2 separate regions of the Homo sapiens genome follow, and region 1 is linked to region 2. A link means that fine-mapping ties the variant in region 2 to the expression of a gene that starts in the linked region. Tissue or cell type: whole blood. Region 2 holds a variant in brackets; the other region holds the start of a gene. All regions are shown on one strand. Distances are between the middles of the regions.

The links. PIP is the estimated chance that this variant, and not a neighbour inherited with it, causes the effect.
Region 1: SEPTIN2 starts here. The variant in region 2 is fine-mapped to the expression of SEPTIN2 in whole blood (INTERVAL, PIP 0.92).

What each region holds. Positions count from the first base shown.
Region 1 is chr2:241,312,716-241,320,814 of GRCh38, forward strand. SEPTIN2 (septin 2) reads left to right here and starts at 3,210. Exons shown (of 13, transcript NM_004404.5): 1 at 3,210-3,267. HDLBP (high density lipoprotein binding protein) reads right to left here and starts at 2,957. Exons shown (of 28, transcript NM_005336.6): 1 at 2,855-2,957. RefSeq lists enhancers at 1,933-1,982, 2,863-2,912, 2,933-3,032, 2,958-3,682, 3,673-3,732 and 1 more and silencers at 2,213-2,592, 3,133-3,482.
Region 2 is chr2:241,577,896-241,585,994 of GRCh38, forward strand. THAP4 (THAP domain containing 4) reads right to left here. Exons shown (of 6, transcript NM_015963.6): 6 at 6,510-6,830. The coding sequence ends at 6,711. It also overlaps the pseudogene RNA5SP122. Among named protein-coding and RNA genes, the nearest start is that of BOK-AS1, 23 kb to the left of the region's middle. RefSeq lists enhancers at 1,575-2,076, 2,077-2,576, 6,404-6,932. The variant G/A (reference allele first, on the strand shown) is at 3,719.

The sequences.
Region 1 (8,099 bases), 270 kb before region 2:
CCATACCAAATAAAAATATCACTTTGTACTCCAAAAAGCATGTTCTCTGCTTAAGCCCTTTCTGTAAGTTTCAGCTGGGACGCACTAATGGAGAATCCATATGACCCACGAAGGATCGTAAGATATCCCAGTGGACCCGGCACAATCATCTCAAATTCTGTTCAGGTCAGAGTATCTTAGATAAAACTCACTGAAGGGCATCAAGTCCTTCAGTACACAGTCTGAGCCAAGCCCTCTACCATTTGCCATGGCAAGAGTATACCAAATTCTAAACCTGTTGCTCACGTATGCCACCAACTATAAATGTCAGCCTCCTCTTTCCTAGTCTTCCTGTCCACTCAGCACCACCTGGAAAAACTCTTACTCGTCTTTTAAACCGCAGTTCAAGGACCACATTCTGTAGGAAGACTTTCCAACAGGTAACCACTGCCTATTTCCTATGTCCACACCTTACACATATTTCTATCATTGCACTTATCACACCATAATGTAATTACTCTTCTACAAATAAGTCTCTCACACTAGACCACAAGCTGCCTGAGGAAAAGAAAAGTCTATATCCTCTTTTTTTGTTGGCTTTTTGAGACACAGTCTCACTCTGTCGCCCAGGCTAGAGTGCAGTGCTACAATCTCGGCTCACTGCAACCTCCGCCTCCTGGGTTCAAGCGATTCTCATGCCTCAGCCTCTTGAGCAGCTGGGATTACAGGCGCGCGCCACCATGCCAGGCTAATTTTTGTATTTTTAGTAGAGACAGGGTTTCACCATGTTGGTCAGGCTGGTCTCGAACTCCTGACCTCAAGTGTCCACCCGCCTCGACCTCCCAAAGTGCTGGGATTACAAGCGTGAGCCACTGCACCTGGTCGAAAAGACTATATCCTCTCAACCTTTGTATCTGCAGAACCCTTAACCCTACACAGCAATTTCCAGCAAATATTTTTTTGAATTGAAATGAAGAAGTGAGGTCATGAGGCTGAAGTCAGACAACTGGAAGGCCAAAACAACAAAACCTGGAAAAATACGTATTTACTCAAGAAGAAATTCTCCCACCAGGCCACTGAGAAGTTAGCTTTGCCCACTGGAGAGGACACTGTAACAGGGATTCAAGTAAGCCTAGTGGCGCTGAGGGACGTGATATAGGTCAACTATATCTTTGAGGTGCTCTCCTTACACTCAATGCACTTTTACCCGAATGACGTTAATTTGACTCCTGATAAGATGAGCTAAGTCCCTTCAACAGTGCTTGGCACCAAGCAAAACTAATAGCAGTAACAGGAAAGTTTAATCCTCATGATGAATTATTTAATGGGGTTTCAAACGCTGTCCCTGAGACTTGAGGCAGTAGGCTCCAGCTCCATTTTCCCCAAGTCTAAAACTTGATAGGTTGATGTTTCAGACTCAGAGATTCGGTAATCCAAATGATGGAAATAATTCTTACCCAAACACCTTTTCAACTATTTTTAAATACTGTTGCCAAGCATCCTAATATCATGTGTACTTAATGAATTTAGCCTAGGGATACTTTTACATGTCAAAAAATCAAAATATAAACCTAAGCACTACGTTTCATCCAGTGTTTCAGCATCCCAGATTTGCTTCCCTAAATGAACATTAAGCTTATTATGCAATGTGCCGCTACCAGGAGCCTTAGACAAAACCCTAATTGTGACTTAACCTATCTTAATAGGGTTTTAAGGAAGTTAGCTGCTAAGAAAGTGACTATCCTTAAGCAGACACCAAATAAATGTGAAGTCATTGATTGAGGGCTTAGGGTATAGGTAGCTATGAATCTGAGGACATAAAACGCAAAACTGAGGGGCAAATCGTCATGTTCCTTAAGATTACGACTCATCCACATTCCTTCAGCCGTTTAATTTCACCATAATAGGCACTGTTTAATAAGCAAAGCCCAAGTCGACTTCCTTCGATTTTACATGGCGTCCAAACACCATGTCAAGTCTGACCCTCTCATTTTTTAAGTCGAATGGAGAGGATATGTAGCAGCTAGCCTTGAGCACCTAACCACTTTTCAAAGGAGCTACGCACAAAAATACCCTAGCAACATGCCACGGTGTCAGAAAGGCTCAGGTTCCCAACACCATGCGGGTCAGCCATTAGGAACTCAGGAAGTGTTTCCTCTAAGCGGGGGAAACCTAGGAAGGCTTCCTGAACGAGGGGTATTTGCGCCAAGCCTTGACGTGAGTCTCGAACAGTTGCAGTGCCTCCAGGCCACGCGGGAGGGAGGAAAGGACACCCCGGGCCGGGGCACAACCCGCGGGCCGGAGCCGCCCGCGCCCATCCCGCTCAGGCCGCAGCCAGGCACGGCACCCTCCCGTCCCCGAGCCACGTCGCTGCTCGTGGGCTCGCGGAGCACTCCCCAGGTCTCACCTCGGGCCCCACACCAGAAGGAGAAAGCTAGGGGCCGCGCCAGCTCCGCCCTCCCCCGCGGGGCGGCGGGCCCCAGCCCGGGCACAGGAAGGCCACGTCCCCGGGGAGGGACGCCCGACTCGATGGTCTGCGCAGGGCCCGTCGGCCCCACGTGACGTGCGCGCAGCCAATCCCAGAGAGGCCCCCCGATCATCGAGACGGCGGCGGTGGTGGGCTAGACGAGTTTCGCGCGGCCGCTCGCCGTCCCCCGCCCAGTCGTACTCGGCGCCCCAGCTCGGTGCTGCCGCCATCTTCTTGGAGGACAGGAGGAGAGGCGAAGGCTCCCCCTCCCCGTGATCGCTCCGCACTCCCGCCACCACCTGCCCTCCCGCGACCGCCTCTCTCCTCCTCAGTGGGCACTTGTCTCCTTCTAACAAACGGCCTTCCCCCCACTCCAGTTACCCACCGCAAGGCGAAGATTCTCATTACCTGTTCCACTCTTATAAGCATAAGAAAACCGAGCTCATAAGGTAGGAACTGTGGCGAAACAGGGACAAGCCGCCATCTTGGTAAAGGAGAAGAGGCTACGCTTGACCTCCCCCCCCACCCCCAGCCTCTATATGGCCAACTGCCGTGGGAGGAGCACGGCGCTTGCGCAGAGGCGGACAACGCGGACGACTCTGGGCTTGCGCACTCGGAAGCCGGCCGCATGGGGGAGGGGAAGAAGGCCAGGTCGCACTGAGCCAGGAAGCAGTTGGCAAAGGGGCGGGGTGACGCGGTGACGCAATCCGCCTGCGCGCTGGGCGGGGCGGGGCGGGCTGGGGCGGGCTGTGAGCGGACCGCGAGCGCTGGGCGGGTCCGCGGCGCGGTCGGTCGGCGCCTGTTCTCGGGCTGTTTGGCGGGTGAGTGTCTCGCCGGTGTACCCCGCACAAGTTGTGGGCCGGCCCTCCCGAGGAGCTGCGGGGGACGCGCCGCTCGTCCCATACTCTCGGGCGGTGGTCGGCTGGCTCTGGGGTGCCGGCGGGGCGGTGTGGGGGAGGGGCGGCCGAGCCCAGGCTCTTCGGCACTTATCGTGGGCTCCCCCGTCCCGGGCGGTCCTAGTGCCGGCGACAGTGGCTCCGACACGGGCAGGCCCGGGCGCGGGAGTGGGGATTCCGGTGACCCCTTGTTGACCCTGCGGGAATTCCTCTGCACTGTCGTCGGTGCTGGGCCTCGGGGCGTCGAGTGCGGTCGAGGTCGGGAGGTTTGGTGCTTGGAGGGAGGATACAGGTTTAGGCCCGACAAACACTTAGAGCTTGTGTGGCCATCTTGTCTTTCTAACGGTGCCATTTCCTCCCTGAGGCGTGGAGGACTGGCCAGCCCCCAAACCTCCAAGCCCATCGGCTGGATGCCGTGGATAAGCGAGGGGAGAGCGACTAGGCCCTGTCTGCGGGTACCTTCGGCGAGGAGAGGCGACGAAGGTCTGCACCAGCGAGGCACGGACAGGCAGCAGGGGGTAGGGTATAGGGTTGGAGGCCGCCGAGTTGGCCCGGGGATGAGGAGCAAACCTGTGGCTTCCGTGGTCTCAGTGGAGTCCCAACTGTGACCTGGCCTACTGGCCCAGACAAACCTGGCTTGCTTTTTTACCTTTTCGGTCTAATTCTTGTCAGTGCCACCAGACCTTGTCCTCTCTCCACGGAAACACACGAACCAACTACACTGAACTTCTTGTAGTTCAAACTTCTGCACCTTTGGCCATTGCCCAAACTCTTAAATCTGGCTACTTCCCACCTTAACTGCCTTCTCCTTACCTAGTCTGTGCTTGTGGGATTCCGCCCAAATTAGATTTCCTCCAGACAGGCTTAGGTGTTTACCTGATGTTCCAGATGGTATTTGTCCAGTGGACTATTGGTGCTGTGAGGGCAGGGCACATGTTGTCACCCATACTCATTGCCTCGGTTGGTGTCTAGCACCTAGTAGGTTCTCAAATACTTTTTGAATCACAGTGCCTGCCGATATATTTAATGTTTCAAAATAGTTCTGCCGTCATAAAGAAAAACATCATGGTGTAGGGGTCATGAAAGCTGATTCTTGATACTTCTGATTTGAGCCTCATTGTTTTCAGTGATTTTTGATAGCTCCCATTAATGGGTTCTTTGCACCACCCAGCATCCTAACTCATGATGTGTACTGTTATGTATAATCTTGGCATTGATCTCATTAGCTATAAAGGTTGTCCTGATTTTTTTTCCTCAACTTCCACCTTGATTTCTCTCACCAGTGCCACAGCCAGGAATAAAGAACAAGAGCGTTTTAATTAGATCAGATTTACATTCTGACTGGCTCTTAAACTAGCAAGGTGACCTAGGGAAAGGGGCCAGGGTTTCCCTCTATCATTCATAAATGTAATTCAGGGCCCCTTTTTATCCCCAATACCAGCATACAGAAACTGCTGTAAAAGAAGAAGTTGTGGGTATTTTTTTTTTTTTTTTTGTCTGGAGGAATGGGGACACCAAAACTCATTTGGCAGCAGAGGTGAGGTAAGGCCATTTGTATTGTCTGTTCTGTTAGTAGTCATACATGCCACTTATCCCTGCCCCAGTCCCTGTTAGGAGTGTTATGTGGGTATACTGAACGTGGACCTTCCCCGAATCCAAAGAATCCAGATGCTTTGAATAAGATCATGGACCTTCCGGGTTCTACATCGCCAGATGTTGTTCATCTTCTATCTTTTGTTTTGCGAAAATTGGTTTTTTATGTGTATTGGGGTTATTCTGTGGAAGAAATAAGCTGTGGGTCAAGATTAAAGAACTTTAAACAACTTCTGGCATGTGGAATAAACACGATCTGAAGGAACAAAATTTTCATTTGACTACATTTTTGGTCCAATTTGCACCCAGTGTTTAAGTTAATCACAGTGCTTGGCAGTTTGTGTTGCTGGATCAAGGCTTTCTCACTGAAAACCATGTGCTTCAGAGGTTCATAATTCCTCTTTCACCTTCCATTTCACATTAGTTAATAAATTATGAGAGAAAACATTGTGGATCCAAGTTATGTTTCAGAAAAAAAAAAACAGGAAAAAAAAAAGATGGCAGGAGAAACTTGGTAAAGTCAAAGCAAAGTTGAAATGTCAGTTTAAGACAAATAGTTTCTCCATTTTCCCATATGTGTGCACAGGGTTCAGTGAGGCTGAGGGGTTCTGTGGAGGTGCGGGAGAGGTGCTCTATGGTATTTCTATGTTGCACTGTGTGGGTTTGAAATCAGATACATGTAATAGGTGATAAGGTAAGTGCCTGCTCTTTTCTATCCTCAGCATTGGCATTTAATCTTTCCATGTGAACTTAAAGCTCATTTTATCCAATCCTTTAAGAAAAAAGCCACACCGTTAGGGATTCCAGTTAGAAATGGACTAAATAACATACTCATTTGGGGAAAATAAAAATGATTTGATTTATGTAGGACCTGTTTTCTAGTTTGGTCCCTACTTGTTTGGATTTTTAAAAATTCTGTTGTAAATGATGTGCCCCCATTTCTATTCCTTGATATTTGTTGCTGGTACTTGACTTACTTGAGATCTTATATTTAGCTACCTTACTAAATTATCGTATTCTAGAATTTTTTTAACCAGAGTATTTGTATTTTCTTTTTTTTTTTTTTTTTGAGACAAAGTCTTGCTCTGTTGCCAGGCTGGAGTGCAGTGGTGCGATCTCAGCTCACTGCACCCTCCACCTCCCGGGTTCAAGTGATTCTGCCTCAGCCTCCTGGGTAGCTGGGATTACAGGCAGGCGCCACCACACCTGGCTAATTTTTGTATTTTTGGTAGAGACGGGGTTTCACCATGTTGGCCAGGATGGTCTCAATCTTTTGACCTCGTGATATGCCCGTCTTGGCCTCCCAAAATGCTGGGATTACAGGCATGAGCTACCGCACCCAGCCGAGTATTTGTATTTTCTGTGTATTCAGTCCAATCAGCAAAAAAGTGTTTTCTTTTGATTTTCTTGTTTCATTATATTCAGTAAACTCACCAAGGTAGTATTAAATAATCATGGTGAAATTGCAATATCTGGATCTTACTTGGATCTTGATTCACATGAAAAAAATGAGAGAATAGAGAATATGAATACTGATTGGATATTTGATTGCATTAAAGAACTAGCTATGTGTAATGGTTTGTCATTTTTAGGAGCCCTTATTTTTAGATATGTGTAGTGGAATATAAATGAAATGTTACATCTCGTATTTGCTTCATAATCATCCAGGCAGTGGCATTGATGATTGTGGAAATAGATGAAACATTATTGACCTTCAGTTGCTAATTGTTGAAGCTGGATAATGGATAGCACATGGGGGTTTTGTTTGCTTTTTGTATAGGTCTTCATGTAAAAGTTTTCATGTAAGTGCTTAAAAATAATTATGGAAGGGCATTCCTGCCGAATTATCGGTTGTAATTTAAATAGATTTAATTTTCTATTGTTTAGAAAACAGTATTTGCCTTTGGTTTTCAGAAATATCCTGAATTAGATTTAAGCAGTTTTCCTTTTTTTCTTTTTTTGAGACAGTCTCACTCTGTCACCCAGGCTGGAGTGCAGCAGCACCATCTCGGCTCACTACAGCCTTCACCTCCTGGGCTCAAGGGATCCTCCCACCTCAGTCTCCCACTTAGCTGGGATTACGGGTGCCCGCCACCACACCCAGCTAATTTTTTTGTATTTTTTGTAGAGACAGTGTTTCACCATGTTGTCCAGACTGGTCTTGAACTCCTGAGCTCAAGCGCTCCTCCTGCCTCAGCTTCCCAAAGTGCTGGTATTACAGGCGTGAGCCACCACACTCTGCCAGCAGTTTTCTTACTGTTTTCATTATGATTGGTTGCTGAATTTCATATGCCTCATCAGCATCTATTAATGCATGATTTTTTTTCCCCTATACTGTGTTGTTGGATTAATATTGGTAGATGCTTTTGATACATTCCTGGAATCTAATTGCTAGCAAATATTGTATTCAGGATTTTTGCATTTATATTTGTGAGTGAGATTGGCCTATGGCGTTCATTCATTCCTTTGTTCCTTTCTTATGTCTCCATCTGGGTTTGTTATTAAAACTGTGCTGTCTTCATAAAACAAATTGTTTTCCCTTTTCTCTGTAGAGGCTTGGAATAGTTAAATGACTTTGGTCTTGTCCAAGGTTAGATGGAGTTCAACTCTAACGTCAAGTCTTGGTCCTTTTCATTGGTATGTCTTTAATCAGCTGCTTAGTGATACTTGTTTTAGTCAGATTTTCCAGTTTTTGGTTCTGTATTGGTAATTTACAGTGCCCATTTTTTCTGCATTTTCAGATTTGGGGCCATTTTGCTACATGTAGTCTTCTCTGTCATTATTTTAGCTACTTTTCTATATTTGCTATTTTTTCCTGAATTGGGCTTGTGAGGAATTTGTTTTAGAAAACCAGCTTTTGCGGCCAAGCACGGTGGCTCAGGCCGGTAATCCCAGCACTTTGGGAAACCAGGGTGGGAGGATCACCTGAGGTCAGGAAGTTTCACCTGGCCAGCATGGTGAGACCCCATCTCTACTAAAAATACTAAAATTAGCTGGGCGTGGTGGCGGGCACCTATAATCTCAGCTATTCCGGAGGCTGAGGCAGGAGAATTGCATGAATCCAGGAGGCAGAGGTTGTAGTGAGCTGAGATCGCGCCAGTGCACTCCAGCCTGGGCAACAAGAGCAAAACTCCATCTCAAAAAACAAAAAGAAAACCAGCTTT
Region 2 (8,099 bases):
CATTTTTAACAGCAACAAAAAGATAAAAATCCCCATGCGTAAAAGAAATGTGAAACCCTAAATGGGAAAAACTTTAAATAGACCATAAAGACACCAAAGTCGATTTTAACACCACCATGGTTTGAATGAATTCCCCAAAAGTTCATGTGTTGGAAACCTGGACTCCAATGCAGCAGTGCTGGGATGGGATTCTGGGGAGGTGATTGGCTCATGAGGACTAATCCATTCATGGACTAATGGGTTCTCAGGGAGTGGAGCAGTTATCACCAGGGGGCTGGTTATAAAAGCCAGCTTTGCCGTCTCTCATGAGACCCTCACATAATGCCCGGCACCACTTGAGACTGCAGAGTCTTGACCAGCAAGAAGGTCCTCACCAGATGCAACTCCTATACCTTGGACTCCCTGCCTCCAGAACTGTAAGAAATAAAATTCTTTTCTTTATAACTTACCCACTCTGTGGTATTCAGTCATAGCAACAGAAAATGAATTAAGACAGAAAGAAAGACCATGTTCCTGGATAAGAAAACTCTCCTAAGCAAGACAATTCTACAAAAGTAAATTTATAAATGTAATGTAATCCTTATAAAAACGCCGCATGCTTTTCCCCAGATCTAGAAAACTAATTATAAAGTTCATGTGAGAGAGGAAGTGCACAGGAGTGTAAAAATAGCCAGGAAAACTCTGCAAAAGAAATGGAGAGGTCCTCTGCCCCCGAACCATCTCCTGGCCTCCGTAATGGAACCACATGACACCAGGACCCATGTAGGCAAGCAGGCCCAGGGACATGAAAACCCGGGGACAGACCCCAGTGCCTAGAACATTCAGTCTATAAGGTAGCATATGATACCGGTGAGGAAAGGATGGACTTGTTAATACAAGTGGTTAAACGTTAACCACTTGGAGAAAGACGAAAATGAATCTGCACTTCATACCATACACTAAGACAAATTCCAAATGGGTCAAAAGTACTAGGAAAAAGTGAATTCCTTCATCACCGGGGAGTGGGCAAAATCTTCTTAAATATGACTTAAAACCCAGGAGTGATAAAAGACAAAATGTATACTGGGAAAAAAGTTTTATAACATAGCACATTTTCAAAGTGTCGGTGACTTGAGTGGGAAGCAGGGCAGTGACTGTCGGGGACTGAGGGTGGGGGGATGGTGTTGAACGGGCGCGGGGTCTCCTTCTGGCGTGATGAAGGCTTTGGAAGCACACAGAAGTGATGGTTGTACGTTATGAATGTATTAAATGCTGCTAAATTGTAGACTTTAAGAGATGGTTAAAATGGTGAATTTTTTTAACCATCTATAGGACTCTGATAAAAATGTTGTTTTATGTATATTTTACCTCAATAAAAATTATAACTTAAAATGAGAAATATTAGGATTAATATTCCTTATTCAAACGAGCTCATGAGTTTGGAAAATCAAGAAAATGATTAAAAAAAAAAAAGAGAGAGAGAAATGCAAACCAAAACCACCCCAAGACTCCATTTCTCACCTACAAGATTGACCCAAATCCAAATTTGACACCAGATTCGGCTGCTGAGGGGGGCAGGGACTTCCTACAATGCTGTGGGGATGCAGAACGCCTGGCCCCTTGGGGACAGGGACAACACCCAGACAAGCCAGATGAGCCTCTCCCCGCCGACTGGCAATCCCACTTCCAGAAATGTATCCTTAAGATACGATGGCCAGAATCCACAAGGATGTGGAAATGCCCTTCTAACCAGACTTAGAAGACAAGCACTCTGCAGTCCCAACGGAGGTGCTGGGTCCAACTCTGACATTTGATTGGCCAAAGACTGGAAACAACCCAAGGCCCAGCATGAGGGGATCTGCTGGCTAACTCACGGTGAGCTAATCCACGGCGAGCTAACCCACGGCGAGCTAACCCACGGCGAGCTAACCCACCGCCAGCTAACCCACGGCGAGCTAACCCACGGCGAGCTAACCCACGGCCAGCTAACCCACGGCGAGCTAACCCACGGCCAGCTAACCCACGGCCAGCTAACCCACGGCCAGCTTACCCACGGCCAGCTAACCCACGGCCAGCTAACCCACGGCGAGCTAACCCACGGCCAGCTTACCCACGGCGAGCTAACCCACGGCGAGCTAACCCACGGCGAGCTAACCCACGGCGAGCTTACCCACGGCGAGCTAACCCACGGCGAGCTAACCCACGGCGAGCTAACCCACGGCGAGCTTACCCACGGCGAGCTAACCCACGGCGAGCTAACCCACGGCGAGCTAATCCACGGCGAGCTAACCCACGGTGAGCTAATCCACGGCGAGCTAACCCACGGCGAGCTTACCGGAGCACTCGGTAGCTGTGCTAGAGGCCTGTGTGGAGCAAATGTGCCTGGTTTTACAGTTCTGACAAGAAAGCCAGTCAAATGATTTGTATTCGCAAAACAAATTATAACAATTTCTAGAATTTAAACAAATGGACTTGTGTATCAAGTTGGTGACAGAAGCGCAGAGTAGTTAATCCAATTACATCATATTTTAACTTTGTATCTTCAAAGGGAAAGGTCTAAAAAAGCTAGCAGAAAAAAACTTTGACCAGTAGTCATTGTTAACAATACCTTTTTTGGTAGAGGTGGGGTCTTACTATGTTGCCCAGGCTTATTTTGAAATGATTATATGCATTTATATGTAGAATAAAGCAAATAATGTTAATGTTGTAATGAACCAAGATTTTCAGCTTAAGAGGTAAAATCAAAGAATATTTAAAAACCCTTATAATCTTAACATTTGAATGGAAAACAGTATGAATTCATATTTTTCAAAAATACATGTGTATATCCCATGCTAAAGTAGTTAAGGGTGAAGGGTCCTGATCTCTAATACAACCTCACGATTCAGAGAAAATAAACCAGAAATTTTTTTTTTTTTTTTTTTTTGAGAGAGAGTGTCTTGCTCTGTCGCCCAGGCTGGAGTGCAATGGTGTGATCTCGGCTCACTGCAACCTCTGCCTCGCAGGTTTAAGCAATTCTCCTGCCTCAGCCCCCCGAGTAGCTGGGATTACAGGTGCCCGCCACCATGCCTGACTAATTTTTTGTATTTTTAGTAGAGATGGGGTTTTGTCATGTTGGCCAGGTTCGAACTCCTTACCTCAGGTGATCCATCCACCTCGGCCTCCCAAAGTGCTGGGATTACAGGCATGAGCCACCGCGCCTAGCTGAGAAAATAAATTTTAGAACAATTTTCTGGTTTTGTCCATGGAAAGGCTGGGAGGTAGAGCAGCCCAGCCATCATAAGCAGTCAGTGCTCAGTCTGTGGCCTCCAATTCCCACTCCCTCCAATTCCCACTCCCCACTAACGAGAACCAGGGCTCTGGAGAAATGGGTAGTTCCAGGTTCTGGGCAGGAAAAGTCAGAGGCAGCTGTGGCCCCAGAGCAAGGAGGCATCAAAGCCCACTGGATGGAGGGGCTCCTCTGTCCAATTACGAGATAATCTGAGCATCTCCTGTTTGCCAAAGATATACGCAGCACTTGATTAAAATGATATCAAATACAGTTGGCCCTCCATTTCTGTGGATTCAACTGTGTATAAAAAATATTCCTGGCCGGGCATGGTGGCTCACACCTGTAATCCTAGCACTTTGGGAGGCTGAGGTGGGTGGATCACGAGGTCAGGAGATCGAGACCAGCCTGGCTAACATGGTGAAATCCCGTCTCTACTAAAAATACAAAAAATTAGCCAGGTGTGGTGGC[G/A]GGCGCCTGTAGTCCCAGCTACTCGGGAGGCTGAGGCAGTAGAATGGCATGAACCCGGGAGGCAGAGCTTGCAGTGAGCCGAGATCGCACCACTGCACTTCAGCCTGGGCAACAGAGCGAGACTCCATCTCAAAAAATAAATAAATAAATAAATAAATAAAAATAAAAATATTCCCCAAAAGCCCACAATAAAAAACCCCAAAAATATACAGTATAACAACTGCGTACAGAGCATTTACACTGTATCAGGTATTATAAGCAATCTAGAGATGACTTAAGGTATATGTGAGAATGTGCATAAGTTGCATGCAAATCCCATGCCATTTTATACAAGAGACTCGAGCATCTGATTTTGGTACCCGTGTGGGTCCTGTAACGCACCCCTGTGGATACTGAGGACAGACTGTATACATGAAAGCATTAAGCTCGTAACATGAGTAGGGAAGCGGGAAGGGTAAGTGCAGTGGTGTGAGGAACTCCCAGTCCTTTGGCACCACTGGAGGGTGCCAGGACATTCTTACTCCAAAAATTGATCATTAAAGGGAAATAATTAAGTGCTTATGCTGCCTTTCTAGTATGAACGCACTTCAGGGTAACCTGACTTACCCTAATGGATAAAGGGAAGGTCTGAGAGAATTCCAGCCACTAAATGTCCTTCTGATGAGACAGAAGACGAGAATTCTGCAGTCCCAGTGAAGGTTCTGGTTCTAGCAATGGTCACCCACAGGTGGCAAAACTGTCAGGGGAACAGTTGAGGGGAAACTGACGATAAAGGGGTCAGGCTGTCGCCATCCAAGCTTATTAATGCTTCAACAAAGTGACACAATTGGACATGAGGCTGTGACACGAGGAACTGAGCACCGTCCGGGTGTGATTCCAGCCACAACTTTAGATCCAACTTCCAGACGACAGGATATAGAGGGGACAGAGGAACAAGTTAAACACTACAAGGAGGATGCTAAGTCCAGACTGGGGACACCTTCGAGGACAAGTGACCAGCTTCACCAACAAGTCAAGGGCACAGGGGAGGGAAGAGGGGGACTTTTAGGATCAAAAGGATCCTAAAAGACTTTGTAGCCAAACACAAACGTGAATAAAGCTTTGATAATCCAATCGTGTGAGGATATTTCTTAGGCAGTAAGGGAAATACGAATAGGACTGTTAGAGAACATTACAGAATTCTTATGCATTTTGTGAAAACAGCACTGTGCCGTCAGTTATTGACTTCTTGTCTCTTGGCTTGTCTGTGCTCTGCCCTGAGTGCTGCCCTTCCACACACCCTTCCAGCTGGGTGTGCTGGAGCCCTGGATGCAGGAGTTGGGGCTGGGACCTCCCTGGTGTTCCCAGGTTATTTCAGCATCACTTTGGGAGCAGAGACAGCTCTGAGCCCAGCCACCAGGTCCCTTGGTGCCCCCTTGGCTCCTGGAGTACAGTCCTAGGCCCTCCTGCCCCTCTTGCGAGAACCAAGCACATCCTGTAAGCTCTGAGGTCCCTGAAACCCCACCCTGGTAATACTTTTTGTCCCCAAGCCCTGGAGGTGGTACCTGCGGTTGCTACCCTGGATGTTAACCCTGCGCAGCCTGTGTGCTACCTATTCTGACTCTGCTTCCCAACACCCGTGTAGCCTCGTCTCCATGTGCCTGGTGAGACTTCTGATATGGCAACGAGTTAAGAGAAAGAAAATGGCTTTGTGTTGTTTTGTGATGCCTACCAAAGGATTTAGGGGCAAGTGACAATATGTCTGGAATTTGCTTACGTGTATTCCCGCAGAAGTGGGGGAGGAAAAGATGGAAGTGCTTTGGGCAAAATGCTGGCAGGTGCTGAAGCTGGGTGACAGGTACAAGGGTTTAGTGTATGTTTGGAAACTTTCATAGTGAAAAAAACCCCACAAAAACGAAAGCTGTATTAGAGTTACAAACTAAAACTTACATGATGATGTTAAGATCACAGCTAGCCTCTTGGGAATGCTCCATCTGTAGGAAAATATAGACTCGGCTCTTTAAAAGTAATGAGAAAATGACTGCCATCTTTTTTTTTTGGAGACAGGGTCTTGCTCTGTCACCCAAGTTGGAGTGCAGTGGTGTGATCTTGGTTCACTGCAACCTCCACCACCCGGGCTCCAGGGATCCTCCCACCTCAGCCTTCTGAGTAGGTGGGACCACAGGCATGGACCACCATACTCGGCTAATATTTCTATTTTTTTTTGTAGGGATGGGGTTTTGCCACGTTGCCCAGGCTGGTCCCAAACTCCTGGCTTCAAGCCATTTCCTCGCCTTGGCCTCCCAAAGTGCTGGGATTATAGGCGTGAGCCACTGCGCCCGGCCAACTCTATAGAAGATTTACAAATATTTTAGATCTTGTCAAAACTGTAAGAAGAAAGAAAAGGAAAGAGATTCATCCCTTCTTAATTTTTTTTTTTTTTTTTTTCCAGACAGAGTCTTGCTCTTGTCTCCCAGGCTGGAGTGCAGTGGTGCGATCTTGGCTCACTGCAACCTCCAACTCCTGGGTTCAAGCGATTCTCCTGCCTTAGCCTCCCAAGTAGCCAGGATTATAGGCATGCGCCACCACACCTGGCTAATTTTTTGTATTTTAAGTAGAGACGGGGTTTCTCCATGTTGGTCAGGCTGGTCTCGAACTCCTGACCTTAGGTGATCCGCCAGCCTTGGTCTCCCATAGTACTGGGATTACAGGCGTGAGCCACCACACCCAGCCCCCTTCTTAATTTCTTAGGGAACGCTTTGGAAAACAAACATCAGCAGATAAAAAAAAAATGTACAGCCTACGCAAGTGATAATATTCAAAATCCTCAGCCATAAAAATAAAGGCCTTTTATTTGGTTTTTCTATGCCAGTACAGAAACATCTGGACAACACTCTTGAGCCTGCAGAGGCTCACGGCCACACCCACTTCTGCCGCAGGGACTGTCTGTTGAGGAGCCGAACCGTTGAGGCACAGTAGCCAGGCCCTCCCGAGGGCTCCAGAAGCTCTAGGTTTACGGGGTCACCTTCTTGTAGGTGACGTGAAGATGCTGAGTCATTGGCTGTGTCGTGGTTGCCATGGAGACCGTCTGCTCAAGTTTGCCTTCAGAATTCAGCCTGAACTTCCGGGTGATCTGAGCAGGAGAATGGAACAAAGATAGCTTAGTTTTATCTTCAAAAGATTCAATCAATGCCTGTGCGCCCACTGCATGCCACACACTCATCACGGGCTGTGAGCCAGGCAGTGGCCCTGCCAGAGGAGGGTAGACACACAGCCCAGGGCCCCTGGGCATGTCACAATCCAGGTGCCCTTCAGCTGCCTCCAGAAGACCACCAGGGGAACACAGGGATTGTTTATTTAGAAGTCACCTTTTTTGTCGACGGCCATACCACCCTGAACGCACCTGATCTCGTCTGACCTCGGAAGCTAAGGAGGGTCGGGCCTGGTTAGTACTTGGATGGGAGAAGTCACCTTTTTTTGGTCTCTACAAATCATATACCTGATCAGACAAGCGCTGAGCTTCCAGTGCTTCCCTTCTCCACTGCCTCCCACTTTCACTGTAACTAGAACTGATGTCCAGTGTGTTCTTGGAAAGCTCAGAAATACCATCTTTGGAACAGTAATTCATCAGAATAAATTATAGCAGCTGTTTCCAACAAGAATCCAAGCCTATGGCAGCTAAGTCCCGAATGAGTCAGCCCTATATGCCCAGAATGTTTGCCGGCAAATTGTGAGAGTGACCACTGTCAAAAGACAATTCTCTGATGGGCACTATCTCTCTAGTGCCCCAGATGTGTGGGGGGTCATGTGGGGTGGGGGGCACCAGAAGTGGATGAAACGGAGTTCTGCTTATGGCCATGGCTGACTACTCTGTAACTGACCAACCCTCCTGCAGATAACAACCCAGGTTTTAAGAAGTTTCTTTAAAGGTGTCAGAGAACCACCAAGTCAGCGAGGACCAGCACCCCAAAGAGAAGGAAGTGTGGAGGTGAGACCCAATTTGGAGCAACTGGCCCCGATGCTTTTGCTGCCCGGAAGTCAAGGGGTTCAAGGGGTGGAGGCTGAGAGGGATGTGGTAGCTAAGAGGCTGAGAAGCTAAGTGGGGCCTTCTCAGACTCATGGAGCTGGAGGGACAAACACTGGAATTCAGTGTCCATCTAGGAGGAGAGGCGCAGCCGGGCATGGTGGTATGCACATGTAGTCCCAGCTACTCGGGAAGTTGAGGCAGCAGAATTGCTTGAACCCAAGAGGTGGAGGTTGCAGTGAGCCGAGATCATGCCACTGCACTTCAGCCTGGGTGACAGAGCAAGACTCCTTCTCAAAAAAAAAAAAAAAAAGAAAAAAAAAAGAAAAAGAAAAAGAAAGAAAAAAAGCACCCTGAGGTTGGGCACGGTGGTTCACG